Linked DNA regions of Homo sapiens. The protein of the gene in region 1 binds, or shares a complex with, the protein of each later gene. Each region holds a gene or a part of one and is shown in the gene's direction. Other genes may lie near its edges.

Region 1 (3,350 bases):
AGGGCATTAGTGGTAGTTTCTGCTCAGCAACCTCTAGGACCAAGACTTCTAACCCTTTCGGCTTGTGATAGACCTTGGATTTGCTGAGACCCACTGAGGACCCGCTGTTTATCCTCCACATTTCTAATCTTGTAGTAGAAACACACTCCACCTGTTTCTTTACTTATTTCTCCTTAGGGTTGCCAGTAATTTTGCCCTGCCATCTCTCCAGTAAAAAATTAAGAGAGCAGAAGGAGAAAACCTAAGATGTATATTTTTTGGCCCATGACACACTATTTGGGAAATTCTTTCTTAGGGTCAGAACCCAGGTTGGTTCTACTTAGGGAGTAAAATTTGGTCTTGAAAAAAACTCATGAGCATATGTGTCCACTCTACTCTCTACTTACCACCCCCACACACATTTTCCTTCTCTTTCTCTTTGTTGTGTCTCTTAGAATTTTCTTGAGCTCTCCTTGAATCTTTACCCAGCATAGCAGGGACAACACAGTCCTGAGATCATCAAAAGGGGCCCAGATCTGCTTCTGGGTCCTCTGGGAGGGCTGCGGGTTGGCACAGCTCCAGGATGAGAAGGTCAAAGATGCCTAAAGATGCTGGGTATTGAGCCCAGTGTTTAGGTTGAATGTTTCCTGTGGACCAATACTGTGCTAGGAGGTGTGTGTCTTTAGCTCGGGGTTGGGGAAGATGGGAGCAGGAGGCAGGAGGTACAAGAGAAGCAGACCTTGTCTTAGCCTTCATTCACCCTCATTCTCTGTGCTTTTGGTTCCCAGGTGGAGTATGGCCCCTGTGTGGTAGCTAGTGACTGCTGGAGTCTGCTGCTCGAGTTCCTACAGAGTTTTCTAGGCAGCCACACACCAGGGGCTCCCGCAGTGTTTGGGAACAGACATGATGCGGTCTACGGCCCAGCAGATACCATGGTCCAGTACATGGAACTCTTCAACAAGATCCGCAAGCAGCAGCAGGTGCCGGTGGCTGGGATTCGTTAGTGATGAGCAGCTGCCAGCTGAGCTCTGTCACCAGGGGTACTCCACAGGAGGAGCAGGTGCTGACTTTCAGGTCCCTGGACCCCAGAAACCCAGGGTAGACATGGACTCTACTCTCCTTCTCTGGTTCTCAGCTGTGGCTTTTGTTCTGGGGCTGAGTCCCCTCCCCAACCCCCTGACTCTCACACATAGCCCCCCATCAGCTGTTTTACTCCGTGCCTTACTGGATTTGGCCTGTCCTCAAGAATGGTAATTATGAAGAGTGGAGAAGTTTGGACCTTGCCTCCTTTAGGGGAAAGGTAGGACAGGAATGTCCCTGCCTGGTACTGGTGGGGGAAATAGTCCGTATCCCCAACTATTAAGGATTTGTCCCAGGCCAATGGTGAACATGCTGCATTTTATGTTTGGATTGTGCTGTAATAAGAGCCTCTTCCTTCCCTCAGAGGATGTGGCTGGGCTTCTATCCTAGAGATGGAGTAGAAGGCACAACTGGTTTGATAGTTACTATTTTCTGACCTGTTTGCTGAAGTGATTTGCGAATTGACTTTCCTAGGGTGTTGCCTGAGTCCTTTGAAATCTCCTTCTGACATCTTTCCCTTCTGTTGTGAAATATGTTAAGCCACAGGCCAAACTGCTATAAGATCGAAGTTTGTTTTTTTCTCACCTAATAATAGAGAGGTAATCAGATGGTCTAGGGCAGATTTAACTCTACAAGGTTATCAGGAACTTTGTTTCCTTCTGTCTTATTCAGCCATTCCCAGTATGTTTTCTTACCCATAAGATCAAAGCAGACTCATCAGCTCCATATCTGCATTCCACTGGGGAAAGAGAGAGAGAAAAGAGCAGATTTTAAAAAAAAGATATGACTGAGCATTGCTCAGATCACTGTGGCCACACTTTGCTGAAAGAGATGCTGGGACATAGAACCTCTTATCTGGGCAGTCATGTGCTGAGTTAAAACTCAGGGATTCTGTGACTACAAGATGAAAGACAATTTGGTTGCTGAGATGCAGTTAATGGCTTCTGTTACATGGAGCTCAATGGACGTGCCCAGGAATGCTTTTGGCTGTTATTTTGCAGTTAATACCTCCTGTAACTAAAGCATTTGTTTATGAGTTGACTTGAGAGAAGGGCTGATCTCAGAGCCGCTTTGAGCTAAGTTGGATTAGTCACACTAGGAAGTTAATTCCACACCTTTCGTCTAAGTCTCAGTATTGAGGCCTCTCCAGTTCTCATGCACCCTGATCTTAGGGTTAGAATACTTGACCCTGATACCTGCACCATGCTTCATGGTTCCTGAGCTCTTTCTCCTGTTTCATTTGAGCCTCCAAACTACATATTTGGTCATATTGCCTGCCTACCCCATGCCTGCTGCAGAAATATTCATCCAGGTTAACCTTGATATACACAGAGATGGTCTTGGAGAATTGTGAATGTATGTACTGTATTGTCATCAAGGATACTGTCCCTTATTTGAAGGCATCTAAAGAGAAACTGTTTTCAGATCCAAGTGCTCAGATCTAAAGCCTCTGCAACAAGTCAGGTGGTGGTCATGTTTCCCTTCTAGTTTTGGCTGACAGGAAGCTCAGTTCAGTACCATAACTACAGAACCTGTCATCTGTATTTTTTGTTCTCACCCCGTTTTTGTTATTTTGTTTCTGGTTTTTTATATTGAGGTATGTTTTAGATATAGTTTACAAAAATAAAACGCACAGATCTTACCTTTTTGGCCTCCTGATTTACATTTGCTCTCGTCCAGGTTTATTTATTTGTATTTTTCTGTAGGCTGCAGCTTTTATGGAATGAAACAATGCATAGGCAGCATTTTGAACACAATGCATTTCCTGAAAATCTCCAGAAGTTGATCGTGGTAAATATAGACTCTCTAGACTTATGCATCATAAGGAGGGACTCTGTTCCCTAAAAGCTAAAAAGCAGTATAAAATCCCTAACTACACTTGGCTTTTATTTTGTTTTTTTATTATTATTATTACTTTTGAGATGGAGTTTTGCTCTTGTTGCCCAGGCTAGAGTGCAATGGTACAATCTTGGCTCACCACAACCTCCGCTTCCTGGGTTCAAGCGATTCTCCTGCCTCAGCCTCCCGAGTAGCTGGGATTACAGGCATGTGCAGTTAATTTTGTACTTTTAGTAGAGATGGGCTTTCTCCATGTTGGTCAGGCTGGTCTCGAACTCCTGACCTCAGGTGATCCACCTGCTTCAGCCTCCCAAAGTGCTGGGATTACAGGCGTGAGCCACCATGCCTGACCCTTATTTTATTTTATTTTTTTGCAATGGAGTTTCATTCTTGTTACCTAGGCTGGAGCGCAGCGGCGCAATCTCGGCTCACTGCGAACTCCGCTTCCCGGA
Region 2 (2,981 bases), about 58 Mb from region 1:
TCTGTGCCATCTTTTTTTTTTTTTTTTTTCACTGCTGGCTATTGTCCTGTTTTATAAATTTCAGTAGCAATTTTCAAAAATTTCAATGAATGATCTGATATTGTAAAGATAAAGAATTTTGGTTTTTAAGTGACCCTAAGGTCCATGGCACATAAGAATATATTTTTGCTAAAAATGAATCACCTGTGCTAAGAGGGTTTTTTTTGTTGTTATTGGGGTGTATGTGTGTGTTTTAAGTAAGATGTGTTCATTTAGTTCAGTGGTTCTCAGCCCTCACTGTGTATCAGTTCATTTGGGGCAGGGAGAAAAAGTCAGAAGGGAAATAAAGAAATGCCATCCATCTTAATTGTTTCTTTAGAAAAATGATTGTTATATAACAAGATAGATTTATGGATTGCTACTCATAAGTTAATGTTACAATTTGGAAAAAGTTAATACTTTATTCAAGGAGCTGTTTAAGGCAGTCATTCAAACAGCTACCTTTGGATGCATTTTTTGCAGAAATTCCCTGAGTGATTCTCCACTAGTGGCAGGGCCTGAAGCTGCAAGATGATGGTGGACAAGATAAGGCAATAATCCTATTGCCAAAGTTACTGGTATTTTCAGTTTTAGTTATTTTTAAGTATTCAGCATTTTTATTTTAAGTATTCAGCATTTTCCAGGAAATTACCATATTTCTTGCTGACTTATAAAGGTTTGCTGTATTTATATATGATTTTATTATGCCTTTGGACAACAGTTTTGGTTTTTTTTTTTTTTTGAAGAACACTTCTTGTTTTTCATAAATAGTAGGAATAGGATTTTATATGTAAGATTTAATTTTATAGGAAATTTGTTTAGAAGAAGCTGTAATCTCTATGTTGAGTGATACCTGTAATAACAATGAAATCCCATACCCTAATTTAAAGTTTTTGAGTATATATGGACACTAACTTCCAGAATGCTTGTTATATGTGAGGGCACAAAGTTATATAAGAATAAAAACATAAAACCAATGTTTGTTAGTCTTCTGGATTTTAATTTTTCACGTGTCTTATAATGAGGAATGTCTTTGTTTTGTATAGTTGTGCCACAGAATAATGAATTTAAAAGTCAGTAGGCTTATCAGGGTGTAAAAATGGATCTTTTAATTGGTATAAAATCTCTTTCTTCCCCATTTGAACAGTGAAGGAGAGCAGGGTCCAAATGGAAGTCAGAACTCTAGCTACAGCCAATCTTAAAACATTCCGAAGAATTCCATAGTGGACCACTTGGAAATAAACCATTGGACAGATTTCAGTAATGTCTTCAGTGGAACACAAATGAAAATGAATAGCTTGTTTCTGTCAAGCATATTGGAAAGTGATTTTATTTTTGCAAAATAAGTTTTTCTTTAATATGATTCTAGTACATAATTGATTAAAATCTCTTGATTATAAATGTTTGGAAAGGTTCTAAGGGGACCTACAGACAGACATACATAGACATTTCAAAATTAATAGCTTTTGATTAGTATAATATTTCTTAATTTGGATAATAAAAATTGTAGCTTTTTATTAAGCCAGGAAACATGAAGCATAATTTGTTTAAAATTCTCTTTGGTCATTGAGGGACCAAAAAAGGACGTAAAATTTACAGTCAATCTATGAGGGTTTTTTTCCCTCCATAAGTTTAACTTTAAAACTGTATTTAAGGAATCAAATCTTACAAAATCCTGGAAGATTTTGGTAATGATGTTGATAATTTCAGGGAAATTAATCAAGTACCTATATTGATTTAAAAGTGTATTTTATTCAGTAGTTTGAGGATCTTGCCATGGAAGATACTAGCCCAGCCTAGCAGAAAAGTGCAATATGTATAGCATACTTTGACATTTTAAACATGATAGTCCATAACCATTTTGAAATGCTGGGCAAACTACATGAAGTTATTTATAATTAATTCACAGCTAATCAGGCATTTTGAAAGCTTAATTGGATTCAAAAACCATAATGTTGGAATTTGGTAAAATTTTAATGTTGATTTTTACTGTGAAAAGGTTTTTATAAGATATACACACCCTAGTTTAATGTTGTGTCTTGGTGTGGATTTACAGATTTACTACAGGTATTCTGAACCAGGAACACAATCAGGTTTCAGGCCAGTTTGATACTGGCTGTCCTTAATTCTAATATGAGAGTAGGACATCATACTAAATGTTATGTCAGTGGGACTGTACTGTCTGTGGAACTTAGCAAATTAATCATTTTCTTCAGACTTGAAGGAGAGTGATAAATAAAATTTGGAGTCATAGGATATTGATGCACAATTTAAGGATTAAACATTTTTAATCAATTGTGGATGATGGCTTATTAAATGTTGACTTCCTAGTATAAAACTGCAAGAATAAAAGTAACTTCTCCAGCTGTATCGACTAGTGTCTTGAATTTATCTTTTTGAATTTGCCTGATGTTGTTTTTTGAGAATTCTTCTTCCTTTAGTTAAGTGTTAAAGCCTTTTATAGGTTGTCAAGGGGGTAATTTCAAATCATTACAAACAGATTTTAAATAGAAAATTTATTTCTGATGGAGCGTATCAAATGAGCTGGAAAGCGAGACTGTGTAAAGTCAGACTGATGACATATATAGGTTTCCTGGGCTTAATAAGAAAAAAAGCTCTCCTCAGGTCTGAAGGAATTAATGTTGGGCTTAGGTAAGACCTATAGTCTTTAAGTGTTTATTTTTAAAATTAATACCATGCCTCATAGTTTTGTTTTCAGTCTCTTATTGTGGAAGATTTAAAACAACATATACAGGAGTAAAGTAAGGAACCTCCATGTACCTATCATCTAGCTTCAGTAGTTATCAATTTATGGCCAATTTCATTTCATCTAAACTCCCACCCACTTTCCGTAAGTTGCCATCCCCCATCTTATTTTGAAGCAAATCCTAGATATCATATAATTTTATCCATAAATATTTCAGCATATATTCCTAAGAAATAATAGCTCTTTAAAAAAACTA
Region 3 (3,707 bases), about 90 Mb from region 1:
GATTTTTATTTTCTTCCCTTTTTTTCTCCTCAGCCTTATTCACAGCATTGCAACCAGGGTGATAAAACTTGCTCATGCAAAGTCCAGTGTGGCCTTGGCTCCAGCCCTAGTGGAAACTTACAGTCGTTTATTGGTCTATATGGAAATAGAGTCTTTGGGCATCAAAGGATTTATCAGTAAGACAGGACTTTCTGGTGTTTATAACTATTAACCCATTCATTAACTCTAAAGTTACTTTTCTAGGTCCTGGGGACACAGCAGAGAACAAGTCACCACCATGATGGAGCTTATGGAGGAGGACATTAAATAAATGAAATATACAATATGTCAGATGATACATGTTATAGAGAAAAATAAAGCAAAAAGGAATAGGAAGTGTGAGGGTTGGGGGGTTTGTTGCATTTTTAAGTAAAGTGGTAAGAAAAGGTTAATGTGCTAGGTGCCTGGGATGCAGTGAGCAGGATAGACCTGGTCCCTGTCCTCATGCAAATGGATTCTGCCTGAGGCAGCAATGCTGTCCTCCAGTGCATACGAAGTCTGACTGGAAATAAAGAAGGAATTTTCCTACCTTGCAGAAGATACATTATAATGTCTCATTTATTATATAGTTCTAAAATAATAGATACTTTCTGATATAGAAGTGTTTTTCTGATTCATGGTAATTCCAGCTTTTCACGAATACAGCATAGTCTTAATTTTAACCACAATAACTCTTCTTAGATAACTGATTGTTGAACAAAACTTTCTTGGGGGTAGGAGGAAACAAGGGCAGGTATAATACAATTTTTTGTATTAAAAAGTGAACCTCATACTTCAAAAGGTATGGAACATTAATTGTCTAAAAATAAAAGATATCAGAATTGAGAAGATTAATGTTTTTTCATATCTTGTCTCATTTTATTTTTCCAGATAAACATGATTATCAATTGCCAAATCCCAGGAAAAAAGCAAACTTGATATTATAGTTAGGATCTGAATTTTTCCTTACTGTTAAAGTAGAAAATAAGAAAATATGGAGAATATATATGTGTGTGGGCGTGTGTATTTTCACAATCAAATCTTTATATTTTACTCAATGTGACTTTCTTCAAATATCTTTTCATGCATAGCCTTTAATAATTGGTACCTTAAATTGTCTTTTTCCTCCAGGTCAGCTTTTGCCAACTGTTTTCAAATCACATGCATGGGGGATCTTACACACACTCCTTGAGATGTTTAGCTACCGGATGCATCATATTCAGCCTCATTACAGAGTTCAGCTCCTGAGTCATCTTCATACTTTGGCTGCAGTTGCACAAACAAACCAGAACCAGCTCCATCTTTGGTGAGCTCATTGAAGACCATCTTTCCTTAAGATTTATTAGAAACTTTCTTGGAGATGAGGTTCTTAATCCTTTACCTTTACCTTATAGTTTTTTTTTTTATTATTATTCATCTGTCATAAAACTTCTCTGCTTCTAAAGTATTTTGTTTCCAGTATAGGAGCAGAGTCCAGCTTTTTAAATAGAAACTGATTAAGATAGTTGAGTCCTTCCTTCAGGATCTTTGGACTGAGAATTAGTACTTCCAGGGTATTTATTATTATGTTGTAACTTAGCCCTTTAGAATGCTGGTTTTAAGTATACTTCAGATTATGGTTAAAGTATCATGTCACATTGATTTTGCTTTACATTAAAATATATTTTAGATAGAAAAATATAATTTTTGAAATGCAGTATCTCCAGGTGAAATTTTTTAGTCCTATAGGCGACAAGCCATCTTTTTCAAATGTGTAAAAAGTCACGATTTTCACTATAAAATTGGACACATTAGGTTTTTTAAACAAATTAAGCAACATTTATTCTCACACAAAAGTGTTTTTTTAAAGAAGGGATAGTCATAGATTGCATGTTTTTCCATTGTAATTAACCTTAGATTTAATTCCATAATTCTGAAATTTTTTTACATTTCTTTTTATTCTCCCAATTTTCAGTGTCGAGAGCACTGCTCTCAGGCTTATAACAGCATTAGGTAGCTCAGAGGTACAACCGCAGTTTACACGCTTCCTTAGTGATCCCAAAACAGTGCTCTCAGCAGAATCTGAAGAACTGAACCGAGCCTTGATATTGACCTTGGCTAGAGCAACTCATGTAACAGGTACGGTGAATATGTGACTACAAACAACAACAGATGAATTAAAGTGTGCCATGATTCTACTAATTACTATAGTTGTAACATACTAAAAAGATACTTTTCATTTGTTTGAAAAAAGCCTGTTGTTTTGATATCTTCACTATTTCACTCATTTATGGAAGCTCTTTTGTGTACCATCATTCTATTAATAACTGCGTTGAGCATCGTTTTCAGCTATCCATAATTTTAAAGTAGTAATACTTTAAGCTTTTTGGTCTCAGGACTGCTTTACACTCTTAAAAACAAAATTGAAATTCCCAAAGAGTTTCTGTTTATATGGATTATATCTATGGATATTTATTATATTAGATATTAAAATTAAGAAGTTTAAAAATATTTATTAATTTGTTTTTAAATAGCAATAATAAACATTACATGTTAATATATGATGTTATAAAAAAAGTATATTTTCTAAAGCAAAACTTTAGTGAGAAGAGGTGCCATTGTTTGACATTTTTGCTTCTCTAATATCTGGTGTAAAGGAAGACATAGTTTGGATTCTCATCTGCTTAGACATTTAATCCATTGAAGTTTTAGTTGAAGTAAGTGAAAAATGTGGCCTCACACAGATGAGGTTGGAAAGAGAGGAGTATTTTAATAGCTTTTTCAGATAATTGGGAATGTTCTTTGACATCACATGGAAAAATGATAGTTGCTTAAAGGTTAGCTGCAATATGGAATCCAAAACCCCCAGTAAACTTCATGTACTTTGTTACATTATAATCTGTACATCTGTTTTATACATTTAGTGGATTTTTAAATCCATGCATGTTTTGTAACTTCATGAATTATTCATTTTGAAAATACTGGTTCACTGAGTTACGTAGATCTAGCAAACGTTGACATTTTGTTTATACAGTATCAGAAAATTACATTTGTTAATATCACTGCAAAGTTTATTAGAAAAATCTAAGTTTTGGAATGCTATCATGTCGTGGTAGATACAGGTTTTCCAAAATTTCAATTTTTACTTGAAAGGTCAAATTTTATCATTGGAAAAAGTTACTATCATTTGTTTTCCTTAAAGTGACAAGCTCATTTTGTTAATTTTCAAGAAAATGTCTGCTAAATACGTAAGTCTAGCTAGCTATAGTTTTCTGTCAGACGTTCTTTCAAGTAAAATTGGAATTCAAAAAAAAAAAAGCAGCTGATTTAACTCAGTGCTCAGTCAGTCACACAAGTGCACAAGTGTTTTTCCTCAAGACACCCATCAAACTTGGAACACTAGGCATATGCTTCCCCTTTTGTTACATATGATGTTAAAAATAGGTGTCGAGATTGACACTGGCACTTTTCTTTCACTGAGTGCATGTGCTGGAGAATACAAAGCCTTTTCATCTAGTCTGGCACCACTGTTTGATTTGTGCTTAGGACCAGCAGTTTTACCACCATTGCTTTTGTACCGTCAGTGCTCATACCAAGTGAAAAAGCCTGATATCTTTTTATTATTATTTGACCTCATTGAATCTTTGAAGGGCTATTGGGGAATCCCCAAGAGGTCTACAGACCACACTTGAGAACTGATGTTTTAAAGA
Region 4 (3,707 bases), on another chromosome or scaffold:
CTTGGATTCTGTGTATAGGCCTTTGGATTCTGTGACCATCCAAGTACCGGGAGGTTCTGCGATTCTCTGTGGAGCCTATTCAAAAGGAGAGGGGTCATGTCAGGTGAAGTACCAGCAGCCCTCTGGGAACTCACATCCCAAGGATTGCCAGGCAATTGGGGTTAAAGGCCTTTGGATGTTACTGTGACTGCAGCAAAGTTTCCTGGGTTCATCCACTGCAGGAAAATGAATCTTGGAAAACGTCAGGGGGCTCATCAGGTTTCCCCTGCATGCAGAGTTAGGCTCGGTCTCCTGTGTGCCAGCAGCAGTCTCTGTTGGGCAGCAGAGGCTGCAAGACGAACAGCCGCTGTTTACTGAGCACTTACACAGTGCCAGACACTACTGTGTGGAGTGTCTCATTGCTTCTTTGAATTACTTCTAGGGTAGGTGCTTCATCTTCATTTTAGGGGCTAGGAGAGATTCACCGATTTGTCTGGTATTGCAGACAAGGGAACCAGAAGCCTTGGGTCTGAATCCATCACTGGGTGGTTCTGATGTCAGAGGGCTTAACTACGACAGTCTTCCGCTTCCCACATCGGTGGTGCCCAGCATGGAAGCTGAACTCCATTGCGTCTTCCAAGGTGTACCCTTGCAAACATGAAGTGTTTTCACATGTTACATTTTGAATTCCATTCCTTCCCAGTTCCTACAACTTTTCCCCCTTTAAATTCCTCTAGCCTAGTGGCTCCAAACCTTTTTGAGTATGAGGGTTCATTTTTATCATCAGAAACCTTCTGGAAGCTTCACATAACAACAGGTGTGCTTTGAGTAACTGTTTTAAAGAAAATTCGAGGACAGAACCTACTCCTAATCCAGTCATGCTTCGAAATGAAGTTCTGTCTTGTCATCAAAACAGCATCAGTGTAACTCTGAGAGCAGGCCTTACCTGTATGTGTGTGACACCTGGAATTTGACCTTTGTGCTGCCTCCAGTTGGGAGCCTCCTGTCATCCCTACTGCCTCCCTTTTCTGAAACCTTACCTGGCTTAATCCAAGACCGTCTCCCTCAGGAACCATTCATCATTTTAACACCTTATATTCCTGCTGATAACAGGTCTTGTTGGTTACATTTTCCATGTGATTGTGAAGTGCCCAAGTAGGAGAGCAGGTGTTGCTCCCTTAGTGTCTAGAACTGCCACAGCACGTGGGTGCCCAAATGCTTGGTGCTCTCACTGTAAACAGGGCCAGTTTTGGGAATGGCTGTCAGCGTTACTGAGCAGGTCCTAGGTGCCAGCGGTTTTCAGCACTTCACCTGCATTCAAAACACATTTAATCTTCATAGCAGGTGTAGATTAAACAGGAGGCAGGTACTAGTGAGGAAACTGAGGCTCAGCGGACACAGCTGGAAGGAGGCTAGATGGGATGAGGCTGGGGTTGGAACACAGCCACCTGCTGGCTGCCTCCCTTGTCATGTGAGAGGCCAGTGGGCACTTGCTGCGCAGGCACTCCCCTTTCTTGCCTGGGTCCAGCTGTTTATGCTGGATTCATCTGTGCACTGCTCTTATGCCAGACTGGGAGGACAGTGGTCACTAAAATGCTCTGTGCTTTCTCTGGAACTGGCTGAAGAAGGGGTGTGAGGTGTGTTTTCCTCTCTTTCTCGTCAGGTATTTTTCACCCTAATAGAGAAGGCGGCGCTTGATCTTAGATTTCTGCCTGTCCATGGTCCCTAGACACTGTTCAAATGTCACTTCATCTGTGAAGCCTGGGTCCCCAGCGATCCTTCGGCCTTTTTTGGTCATGTGACAAAACATGGCATTCCTGGACACACATCCCCCCAGATTTTCATTTGCTATGGTGAGAAAGTAGGGTGCTGCTTTGTCCAGGCCACACCCTGGTGGTGGGTCAGCCTCGTGGCTGCTGTGGAGACTCGGGTATTCGTGTGCTGGGTGCACAGCATGGTTTTATAGGGCGTTGGCTGTGGCTGGCCTTGACTCTGGTGGGGGTTCTGTGGTGCAGGCATCAGCAGTGGGTGAGTTACTGGGAGGACTCAGGTGGGTGTGACCCATGGCCCACACCGAGAGCCCAGTGGGCTGGCAGCACTCCCAGGCCCTGGCAGCCCCACTGCCTGCTTGTGCCTTCAGCACGGTAGTGCACTCTTCTGTTTCCCACCCACACTCCTGGTCACATTGGCTCTCTGGGCAGCCCCCTGCACACACTGGGTTTAAGTTCTTATCCCCTTGATGACTTGTTTTGATGTCCCCCGTTCTAGTCATCAGGTTCCTGGCCCAGCTTGAGTTAGGCATGGAGAGGTGGCCACATCCTCGTTCCCCCCAGGGTGATGTAGTAGTTACCATGGTAGCTAACGGCTCTCCTGTTCTGCAGGCCAGCCCTCCAGAACCCTTTATAGATGCTGCCCAACTCCATTCACCTCCCAGGTGCATCTTGCATGGTGCCTAGGCAAGCAGTCAGCAAGCTGGCTTTTCAGTGCTGTCAGTGGGAGACCCGTGATACTGATGTGAAGGGATATAAAATAAGAACAGTTTTATCCTTTTGGGTGGTCATTGGTTCACATTGTTTCCTTCCGTGTTAATTGGTTGCCTGCACAGCACTTGTCTTTACTTCCTATACTAATTCTGTGGCCTGTCCAGCCCTAAAGGGAGGTTAGCACTGTGCTGGTGGCAGGAGCTTAGACACAAAGGGGCTGATGGTCATGCAGGCCCAAAGGCAAGTCTGCGGTCAGGTGAGGACCTGGTTTTTCTGTCTCCCTCTTTTGCAGTGTTGCCTTCACACAGTAGGGTGTCTTCCTCTCCATCCCAGCAGTTTCAGGATTTTCCCTCACCGAACTCCCGACTCTTTGCTGGAAGCCCCACCAAACGTTTCCTTATGCCTTCTCTGAGCTTTGATTGGATTAGCAGTTTGATTGAATTAGTTGATTGGCTTACCCCTGAATCTGCTGTGGGTTCCACCCAAACAGTCCCACAATAGAGGGGATGTTCCCAGGAGACATCAAGGTCCTGTTAACGGGAGAAGAATAGTGGATCCAGTGTCCATGGATGTGCACTGATGTCATCACCTCTCCTGATGTGACCGCCAAATAGTTGGGCCTTGGCTCCAGAAGGCAAAATGGGAGTTTTTGGGGAAAAAAATGGGAAATGTAAGGTCCAGAGTAGCAACAGGGTGGTTTGGCTGGTGTGAGGTCACCGCGTGGAGTTGTGAGTACCTTCTTGTTCTGGTTAAACCACAGACTCCATTTGCCTGTAGTCACCCTTGGGGACCTCGCTGTCACGCTGTCCGAGTGCAGGTGCTGGCCAGCTGCAGCTTCAGATCCTGTCCTGGGCTGGAGACAGTCTTGAATGGTGCTGTTTTTTCCTCCCTGTCTTGACAGTCTCTCCTGGTGCTTCAGTCACTGCCTGGAATGGAGCTCATTGCTGGGGGAGGTGGTGCGGTCCAGGTGGCCTGAACCCCACCAGGCCTCCTGTGGTCATGAGGAGACTGCGCTGTGACCCAGGCAAGAGCTGTGGCCCCTCCTGTAGCTTCTCTGAATTTGTGGACCCTGGGCAGAGGCTGGGAGATCTGTTGGGTCTGATTGTCCTGCCTGTTTCCTCTCATCTGTGCCTCCCCTCTGGGTAACCGGAAACTCGTACCTGTGTTTCCTGGCCTGGCTTCTTCCCCTTCGGTTAATGGAGAGGGGTAGAGTCAAGTGATCTTTCTTTTGCAGCCTCCATTTCC
Region 5 (2,609 bases), on another chromosome or scaffold:
TCCTGCAGGTGAGAGACCTGCCAGGAGCAGAGCAGGGGCCAGGTCACCCCGGGGTATACCGTCCCCCAGCGCAAAACTGGGTTAATGCCTCAGGGAGATTTCCGTAACCTAAGTCCAAGGGAAAGTCTGGCATGGGTGTTCCCTCCTCTCCCTCCCCACCCTACAGTGGCACCTGAGCCTCAGGTTCTCTCGGCCCTCCCCCAGGGTGGTGATCATGAACTCGATCCTGGAGCGCATGTGTGCCGACGTGCTGCAGCAGACAGCCACGCAGATCAAGTTTCCCTCCACCGGGGTGGACACAATGCCCTACTGGAACCTGCTGCCCCCCAAGCGGCCCATCAAAGAGGTGCTGACGGACATTTTTGCCAAGGTGCTGGAGAAGGGCTGGGTGGACAGCCGCTCCATCCACATCTTTGACACCCTGCTGCACATGGGCGGCGTCTACTGGTTCTGCAACAACCTGATTAAGGTACTTGGGCTGGAGTGGCTGTGGGCCGACATGGGTCCTGTCCCCTGGCTCCCCACACCTGGCCTGGTCTGCCAGGCTTCCCTGAGAGGCTGCCGTGAGCCAGGTGGCCTCCCCGGAATGCCTCGCCTCAGAGTTGCCTCCTTGGGGAGCTCTGGCCAGAGACTGGGATTCAGCCTGAGGGGCGGAGCAACATCTGGGGCCCCCTCTGCGGGCCTTACTGGACAGCCATGCTGGGGTGGCAGGGTGTAGGAGCCCCAGATCCCGGGCCCCTGGCTCCTGAACTGCCCCCTTTCCTGCGCACTAGGAGCTGCTGAAGGAGACGCGGAAGGAGCACACGCTGCGGGCAGTGGAGCTGCTCTACTCCATCTTCTGCCTGGACATGCAGCAAGTGACCCTGGTCCTGCTGGGCCACATCCTACCTGGCCTGCTCACTGACTCCTCCAAGTGGCACAGCCTCATGGACCCCCCGGGCACTGCTCTTGCCAAGTAAGATTCTCTTCAGAGCTTGCCCTGCTCCGGCCACCCAGGGTCAAGCACCCCTCGCCTGGTGCCACCCTGGGAGACTGGGCTTTGGGGAGCCCAGTCAGACACAGAAAGCTCCTGGGGCACCTCTCACTGTCCCCCTTTTTCTGGAACCCTTTGCCAGGCTGGCCGTGTGGTGTGCCCTCAGTTCCTACTCCTCCCACAAGGGACAGGCGTCCACCCGCCAGAAGAAGAGACACCGCGAAGACATTGAGGTAGGCCCCCCAGCTGCCCTCGCCGGCTTCACTTGTTCACCGGTTTGTTACAGCATTTCCTAAGGATTCCCCAGGCAAAGGGAAGCAGTTGTGGCCCCTGCCCTTGGGGCAGCTGTGCCTGGGCATGATTGGTCAGGAATCTGCATGGGTGATTTGTGTGGCCCCAGCTTGCCCATGGGCACAAGGGGCCTGTCAGATTGTGGGAGGGGTTGAGCAGAGAGGGGCTGAGGCCCTGCTAGCCATGCTGACCTCGCTCAAATCGGAGCTCAAGCTCTTTTCCCTGACAGCTGGAAACTGGGGGGTTTAGGGGTGTATAACAGTGACTTTCACTCCCTCTAGGATTATATCAGCCTCTTCCCCCTGGACGATGTGCAGCCTTCGAAGTTGATGCGACTGCTGAGCTCTAATGAGGACGATGCCAACATCCTTTCGAGCCCCAGTGAGTGTGTGGGCTGGCCGCGCGCCGCTCCTTTTCCTGGGAATTCACTCCCCGATGCTGCCACTCTGCCGCTGCCCCAGCTGCAGGCATCTTTGCAGCTGGTCAGAGAGGGTGTGGCAGGGACCTGCTGTTCTAGCCCCCAAGGGGGTGCTCTGTGTCCTGCCCCTGGAGAAGAGGTTGCTGTTCTCACTCCCTGAGGGTTGAAGCTCCTCTGCCCAGGTCCAGCCCAGCCCACAGTTGTTCCCCCACAGCCCTCCTGCCCCTCCCTTACCCCAGGGTTGAGGGGATGACAAGCTACCCAAGTGAGTGAGTTCACTGCCTCAGGCACAGCCTGTGCCATTGACTCACCAGCTCTGACCTTCCTTCCTTCCTTCCCCCAAAACATGCCCGGAGAGGCCCGGGCTGGGGCATGGGGCTACTCCCCACCTTCCTGCCTAAAGAGCACACCCCCCACCAACCACTTCCCTGGAGGTCATCCTTTTCACTGTCCCCTCCTCCCTGCCAGGCTTACTGCCAAGGGTTCCTTCTGTGGCATTTTTCCTGTTTCCAGAGATTTCTCCTGAGCCTGAACTTTTCTCTGAAGCCTTTTAGGAACTAGGGGACCAACTATACACTTGATCAGAAGAAAGATGCTAGGTTTGCCAGCTACAAGTGCTGTGACCTTTAGCTAGCGACTGAGCCAGCCCCCGTCTGGGTCTCCTCATCTGTAAATGGGGTGTTGTGAGGAGTAAGCAGCTTAGGAAGTACCAAGATCGGCCCCTGGCCCTGTGTGCTCACCACATGTTAGTTTTTCTCTCTCATTCCATTGGGATCTCTGTATCTGAGGTCCCTCTGTGCCCTTTTTTTGTTTTGTTTTTTGTTTGTTTGTTTGTTTGTTTGTTTGAGTTGGAGTCTCCCTCTGTTGCCCAGGCTGGAGTGCAGTCGCACGATCTCAGCTTACTGCAACCTCCGCCTCCTGGGTTTA
Region 6 (2,420 bases), on another chromosome or scaffold:
ACAGGGTTTTTCCATGTTGGCCGGGCTGGTCTTGAACTCCTGACCTCAGGTGATCCACCTGCCTCAGCCTCCCAGAGAGCTGGGATTACAGGCGTGAGCCACCGCGCCCAGCCAGATTTTGTAAACAAGTATCTGAATATGTTCCTAACATTTGAGCCATAGCCATGGAGGCAGAAAGATGACTAAAAAAATGTATGTCAAGCCAGCTGTTACAGGCTTATGCCTGTAATTCCAGTTGTTTGGGAGGCTAAGGCTGCAGTACTGCTTGAGTTCGGGAATTCAGGATTAGTCTGGACAACATAGCAAGAACTCATCTCTACTAAAAAAAAAAATTAGCTGGGCATGGTGGTGCGCACCTGTAGTCTGAACCACTTGGGAGGCTGAGGCGGGAGGATCACTTGAGCCCAGGGGATGGAGGCTGCAAAGAGTTATAATCACGCCACTGCTCTATAGCCTGGAGACAGAGTGAGACCCTACCTAAAAAAAAAAAACAAAACTATGCCATAAAAATAAAGCAGGAAAGTGGCTAGAGATTGGTAGGACACATACTATTTTATTAGGGTGATCAGAAAAGGCCTTGATGATAAAGTCACTTGAGCAGAGACCTGACAAAAGTGATAGAGTAGACATGCAGATGGGAAGAACATCCTAAGCACAGAGAATAGGAGAAGGGGTGTGGCAGGAAGGTCACTCCTGGAGAGAATGATCAAGGGGAGGAATAGAAGGAGATGATGTTTGGCAGGTAGCAGAGACCATAATATGTAGGGCCTTGTTGACAACGGTAAAGATGTTGGCTTTTATTCTGAATGACACAGGAAGCCACTGTAGTGTCCTGAGTAGAGGAGTGTTATTATCTGCCCAATAATTTAATAGACCATTTGGCTTTCATATGGAGAAGAGAGGAAGAAGGCAAAGGTAGAAAGAGGCGATTGCAAAGACCAGGCAAGAAATGAGGGTGACTTCATTTGAAGGGACTAGGTTGAAGTGACCAGATGAGTGAGAAGTGATTGCATTCTGCATTTATTTCAAAAATACGGATTCAATGGAGGGTATGAGAGAAAGAAAGAGGGTGTGAGTCAAAGATGATTTTCTGGTTTTTGGCCTGGGTAACCAACTAAAAACAGAGAGTTGCCATTTACTGTGATGTTGAAGACTGTAGGGTGAATAAGATTTTGGAGGAAAAAATCAACAGTTTGATATTGAACATGTTAAGATAAAGATGTCTGTTAGGCATCCAAGTGAGGAAACTGAGTAGGAAGTTGGATGTTTTCATCTGTAGTTCAGAGATAAAAACGTGGGAGTCCTCAGGGCCTAAATGATATTTAAAGCCATGGGACCAAATAAAGTCACCTAGGCAGGAAAAGAGTATTGATACAGAAGAGGACCAGGATTGAGTCCTAGTCCTCCAGTGTTTGGGGAAGATGAGAGAGACCAAGCAAAGAAGACTTAAACGGAATGGTCAGCAAGTTAAGTGAAGACAAGAAAGTTGTGTCTCAGAGGCCAAGGGAAGAATAGATTTCATAGTGGGTATAATCTACTGTAACAATTATGTCAGATGTTGCCAAGAGGATGAAGATTCTATGAAGCAATTCACTCTCTTCTACTTACATACAGAAGAGGAAAACTTTTCCTGATAAAAAGGAAACTTTAGCCAGGTGCAGTGGCTCCATGCCTGTAATCTCAGCACTTTGGGAGGCTGAGGCAGGCGGATCACGAGGTCAAGAGATCGAGACCATCCTGGCCAACATGGTGAAACCCTGTCTCTACTAAAAATACAACAATTAGCTGGGCGTGGTGGCACACGCCTGTAGTCCCAGTTACTCAGGAGGCTGAGGCAGGAGAATCGCTTGAACCCAGGAGGTGGAGGTTGCAGTGAGCTGAGATCGCACCACTGCACTCCAGCCTGAAGACAGAGCTAGACTCCGTCTCAAAAAAAGCGGGGGAGACTTTATATTTCTTCTATAAATGGAAGACTTTGATTTGTTGGAAATAGAAGGCAATTGTTAAAATATATAACAACAAAATAGTGTTATTGGCTGGGCATGGTGGCTTGTGCCTGTAATCCCAACACTTTGGGAGACCAAGGCCAGGAGTTCAAGACCACCCTGGGCAACATAGTAAGACCCCAACTCTACAAAAATAAATAAATACATAACTAAAACAGTATTATTACATTCTAGATAGACACTGTCGCTGATTAAAGGCTCTAAGCCCCAGGCCTGCTGGAGATGAGCATTAGAAGAGGCCTAAAGACTTTGTAGTGCTAAATAAGAAAATTCCAAAAAAATTGAAAAGGAAAATAACTTTCTCACAACGTTATACAATACCTTGGTAGTGTAATTTCTGTAAAATCTCATGTTTGGCTGTATGTTTTATGAAATGCTTCACTAAACTGTTTTGGTTTTTCATTTAAGTTTTTT
Region 7 (4,294 bases), on another chromosome or scaffold:
AGGACAAAAAATCAAAGAAGTCCAGGTGAGAGATAATGGTGGCATGGCATAGGACCATAGCAGTGGGAACGGTGGTCAGTCATATTTGGAACTTTATTTACTTATTTTTAAATAGATCTAATGCAAAAGGCTGGTATGGTAGTTTCGGTGGGGTATGTGAGAAAGGAGAAAAAGGTGATTCCTTCGATTGAACATTTGCAATTGAGTAAAGTGCAACTGGGGAAAGATGTCTGTCACCACTGGATATGAGGGTCTGAAGTGCAGAGGAAACGGTGTTCCAGGGCCTGCATGTAATCATCCAGCTGATATCTGACTGAGAAGTGGTTGGAGAACTGAGTCCTGGGGCAATCCATTAATCAAATGTGCCAAATGCTGCTGACAGATGGAGTAAAATGAGGACTGGGAACGACCATTGGAAGTCACTGGTGCAGGATACATTGGGGTCAGCGGTGAGGAGAAAAGCTGGATTGGGTTATGCTCAACGTAGATGGATTTCTTCAGGAAATAAATTGATACGTGCGAGGGATTTAAAATGGGGGAGTCCGGAAGTGGTGGTTCACGCCTACAATCCCAGCACTTTGGGTGGCCGAGGCGGGCGGATCACTTCATATCAAGAGCTCGAGATGAGCCTCGCCAACACGGTGAAACCCTGTCTCTACCAAAAATACAAAAAAAAGAAAAAAAAATAGGTGAAACCCCAACTATTCGGGAGGCTGAGGCACGAGAATCGCTTGAATCCCGGAGACTGAAGTTGCAGCGAGCCGAAATCGCGCCACTGCAGTCCAGCCTGGGCGAAAGAGAAAGACTCCGTCTCAAAGAAAAAAACAACAAAAAAACCCTGCATGTCTATATTTTCGAATTTGTATGTAAGACGTCTTAATTGTATGCGTTAAATTAAAAAAGGACAAAAGGAATGGAACTACCAGCAGCGACTAAGTCAGTAAAAGAGTGGTAATGGGGAAGGGGGTGGAATATACGCAGGCGCAATAGCAAGCGTTTCTTTTGGAGGTTATTTTCGTGTCATAAATTTCTAAATTCACGTTAAGTCTTACAAGAGCATGTTAAACATTAAAACATAAGATTGTTTCTGGTCAATAAGGGGTCTATAAAAAATAAAGCAATAAGGTGTCTTGTTCAATTTTATGCCTTAATTCAAAAAGAAACGAAGAAACGGAACCCTCAGCTACGACTTTTAAAAGTCAGTAACGGGTGGATGGGAGGAGTCAAACATACGTAGGCGCAACAGCGAGGGATCGGTCTGAGGCGGAGCTAGAATTTCGTTAAAGGACAGCTCTTACAGCCAATCAAGGACAGAGTCGGTGGCTTCTTCCCGGAGGAGACCGGAAGTTGGTTTCGGCTGCAGAGGGGAAGGCGGCTACCAGTGTAAAGCCAGAGCTGAGGTAAGTGGGCGGCAACGGTTTGGGGCCGCCGCCTGTGTGCGTTTTTTTCTTCCGGACCCCGCAGCTTCCTCTGTGCTGGGCTGGGAACTGGGGAGGCATGGCTGAGTTCGGCCTCCAAAGGCGGTCTTTCGTCTTTCTCTCCCGAGTCTCTCCGAGAGTGCGGTCTCTCCGAGAGCGCGGAGGCCTCGGGGTGGACAGCCTGGAGGAGGGGGCTCTAAGCGTGGCAGTCTCGGGGCTTCCTCCGTGTTGGGACGCCGAGCCGGAGTGGAGGTTGGGAGACCTGGCGTCTAGTCCCCGCGCCGCTGTTTTTCTAAGCTGTGTGGCCTTGGGCGAGTCATTTGCCCTCTCCGGCTCTTTGTAACATGAGAGTAGCCCTCCCTGCCCTTCCTTCTTCTGGGAGCAGTTATGAAACAGCTGAGGTATGGGGGCAGGCGAGGGCGGTAGATCCCAAGCCTAATCGTCAGGTCCATCTGGAGAGGTTTTAAAAGCGACATTCTAGGGCCCATTCACAGTAGACAGAATGAATCAAATCTCTGGGGCTGGGACCCTGGAATGTCTGTCGTCTTCTGGTGAAGCTCCTTCTCCCCCAGTAGAACAAACACTAGATGTTGGATCTTGAGTTAAGAACCAGCTCTGATGCTTGGCTCTGCTTTTATTAAAAATAAGACCTCCATCACCTTTGAAAAGTTCCATCTAGAGAGACAGTAGAGAAAGAAATATAATTTTTGTGATATGCCAGTCCTTATTGTACAGTTAGATGCTTCTCGGCTTAGGGATATAAGAGAGCTTGCCCTTTGGAGCTAAAGGGACCTGGGATAAGAATTCCTGTTGTGCCATTTATTAACCTTTTGATCTGGGGCAACACTTCCCCTCATTGAGACTTCGGATCCTCACTTCTAAAATGAAATTGATAATAGAACTTAATTCGTGGGACCGTGTGGTGGCTCACGCCTGTAATCCCAGCACTTTGGGAGGCCGAGGTGGGCGGATCACTTGAGGTCAGGAGTTCCAGACCAGCCTGGCCAACATGGTGAAAACCTGTCTTTACCGAGAAATACAAAAATTAGCTGGGCGTGGTGGTGCGCACCTGTAGTCCCCAGCTACTCAGGAGGCTCAGGCAGGAGAATCCCTTGAACCCGGGAGGCAGAGGTTGCAGTGAGCCCTGATGGTACCACTGCACTCCAGCCTGGGAGACAGATTGAGCCCTTGTCTCAAAAAACAAAACTAACAACAAAAACCCCAAAAACCTTAATTCATAGAATTGTTAATGAAGATTATGTTACAGAGGCCATAAAAAATGGTACCTGTCATGTAGTTGGCCTTAGGAAAATGGCAGCCGCAATACAGGAATGCACATCGTGTAGGAAAGTACAGAGCAGCACTCCTCACCTAAAAAGGTTTGAGTGGGATGAAACGTGAGCTGTCAAAAATTGTATTTTCTGCCGGGCACGGTGGCTCACGCCTGTAATCCCAGAACTTTGGGAGGTCGAGGCAGGTGGAACACGAGGTCAGGAGATCGAGACCATCCTGGCTAACACGATGAAATCTCGTCTCTACTGAAAATAGAAAACATTAGCCGGGCGTCGTGGCGGGCGCCTGTAGTCCTAGCTACTCAGGCGGCTGAGGCAGGAGAATGGCGTGAACCCGGGAGTCCGAGCTTGCAGTGAGCCGAGATCGTGCCACTGCACTCCAACCTGGGTGACAGAGCGAGACACTGTCTCAGGGAAAAAAAAAATGTATTTTGAAGTACCAGATCACTGTTAATTCTTTGATTTTGGTAATTGTGCTTTGGGTAGAAGAAAACATTCTTGTCACGAGAAAACACACTGAAGTATTCAGGGGTAAAGGAATGAAAAACCAATAAAGCAAATGAAGGAAAATGTTAACATTTGGAGAATCTGAGTGAAGAATATGAAGTGTTTTTTGTGTATTCATGCACTTTTTCTGTAATCTGAATTTATGTTAAAAGTTTTAAAATGTCTGGGTGTGGTGGCTCACGCCTGTAATCCCAGCACTTTGGGAGGCCAAGGCAGGAGGATTGCTTGAGCTCAGGAGTTTGAAACAAGCCTGAGTAACATGGCAAAACTCTGTCTCTACAAAATATACAAAAATTAGCCGGGCTTGGTGACATGCCTGTAGTCCCAGCTGCTTGGGAGGTTGAGGTGGGAGGATCGCTTGAGCCTAGGAGGGCGAGGCTGCATCATCCTATGCACCACTGTGGCATAGTGGAAACTCAGGGCTGCGCCACAGCTGCCCTCAGTACCTCACGAATTCTAAGTATAATATTGCTTCTAGTAGGATACTTGCCCCACCCGATGTTAGAGTGTGTTATATCTTGAAACTCTGATAACACCAATCTAAAGGAGCACTTAAGGATCTTCTCATTGGATGGTATACCTAGGCTTAAGGTAGAATAAGTAGAGGTTATTATGGCCATAGATACTGGGTTTGAACCTGGGGTTTGACATTTCTGTGATAGTTGTAGAGAAGTTAATGTGTCCATACAGGCCAGGCGTGGTGGCTCACGCCTGTAATCCCAGCACTTTGGGAGGCCAAGGTGGGCGGATCACCTGAGATGGGGAGTAAAGAGACCAACCTGGCCAACATGGCAAAATCCCGTCTCTACTAAAAATACAAAAATTAGCCAGACATGGTGCACGCCTGTAATCCCATCTACTTAGGAGGCTGAGGCAGGAGAATTGCTTGAGCCCAGGAGGCGGAGGTTGCAGTGAGCTGAGATCTGAGATTGCACCACTGCACTCTAGCCTGGACATCAGAGCAAGACTCCATCTCAAAAAACAAACAAAAGTTAATGTGTCCATATAAAATTGCATAGTATACTGTGACAAAAAGGGTATGGAACTGAATCATCATTTCATTCAGGAACTTTGGAT

Evidence for each region.
Region 2: MED20 (region 1) and CCNC share a complex: the UniProt entries of both Homo sapiens proteins name them as parts of the mediator complex.
Region 3: MED20 (region 1) and MED23 share a complex: the UniProt entries of both Homo sapiens proteins name them as parts of the mediator complex.
Region 4: MED20 (region 1) and MED26 share a complex: the UniProt entries of both Homo sapiens proteins name them as parts of the mediator complex.
Region 5: MED20 (region 1) and MED24 share a complex: the UniProt entries of both Homo sapiens proteins name them as parts of the mediator complex.
Region 6: MED20 (region 1) and MED18 share a complex: the UniProt entries of both Homo sapiens proteins name them as parts of the mediator complex.
Region 7: MED20 (region 1) and MED7 share a complex: the UniProt entries of both Homo sapiens proteins name them as parts of the mediator complex.

The regions. Positions count from the first base shown.
Region 1 is NC_000006.12:41,904,705-41,908,054, reverse strand, and holds the end of MED20 (mediator of RNA polymerase II transcription subunit 20), read left to right. Parts: intron 1-767; coding exon 768-983; 3' UTR 984-2,701; downstream 2,702-3,350. UniProt on the Homo sapiens protein: Component of the Mediator complex, a coactivator involved in the regulated transcription of nearly all RNA polymerase II-dependent genes.
Region 2 is NC_000006.12:99,541,794-99,544,774, reverse strand, and holds the end of CCNC (cyclin-C), read left to right. Parts: intron 1-501; coding exon of another isoform or gene 502-553; exon of another isoform or gene 554-995; intron 996-1,165; coding exon 1,166-1,220; 3' UTR 1,221-2,388; downstream 2,389-2,981. UniProt on the Homo sapiens protein: Component of the Mediator complex, a coactivator involved in regulated gene transcription of nearly all RNA polymerase II-dependent genes.
Region 3 is NC_000006.12:131,600,647-131,604,353, reverse strand, and holds part of MED23 (mediator of RNA polymerase II transcription subunit 23), read left to right. Parts: intron 1-33; coding exon 34-176; intron 177-1,149; coding exon 1,150-1,324; intron 1,325-1,972; coding exon 1,973-2,136; intron 2,137-3,707. UniProt on the Homo sapiens protein: Required for transcriptional activation subsequent to the assembly of the pre-initiation complex. Component of the Mediator complex, a coactivator involved in the regulated transcription of nearly all RNA polymerase II-dependent genes.
Region 4 is NC_000019.10:16,617,999-16,621,705, reverse strand, and holds part of MED26 (mediator of RNA polymerase II transcription subunit 26), read left to right. Parts: intron 1-3,707. UniProt on the Homo sapiens protein: Component of the Mediator complex, a coactivator involved in the regulated transcription of nearly all RNA polymerase II-dependent genes.
Region 5 is NC_000017.11:40,020,991-40,023,599, reverse strand, and holds part of MED24 (mediator of RNA polymerase II transcription subunit 24), read left to right. Parts: intron 1-204; coding exon 205-469; intron 470-773; coding exon 774-955; intron 956-1,115; coding exon 1,116-1,206; intron 1,207-1,545; coding exon 1,546-1,645; intron 1,646-2,609. UniProt on the Homo sapiens protein: Component of the Mediator complex, a coactivator involved in the regulated transcription of nearly all RNA polymerase II-dependent genes.
Region 6 is NC_000001.11:28,331,930-28,334,349, forward strand, and holds part of MED18 (mediator of RNA polymerase II transcription subunit 18), read left to right. Parts: intron 1-2,420. UniProt on the Homo sapiens protein: Component of the Mediator complex, a coactivator involved in the regulated transcription of nearly all RNA polymerase II-dependent genes.
Region 7 is NC_000005.10:157,139,926-157,144,219, reverse strand, and holds the start of MED7 (mediator of RNA polymerase II transcription subunit 7), read left to right. Parts: upstream 1-1,354; 5' UTR 1,355-1,400; intron 1,401-1,444; exon of another isoform or gene 1,445-1,819; intron 1,820-4,294. UniProt on the Homo sapiens protein: Component of the Mediator complex, a coactivator involved in the regulated transcription of nearly all RNA polymerase II-dependent genes.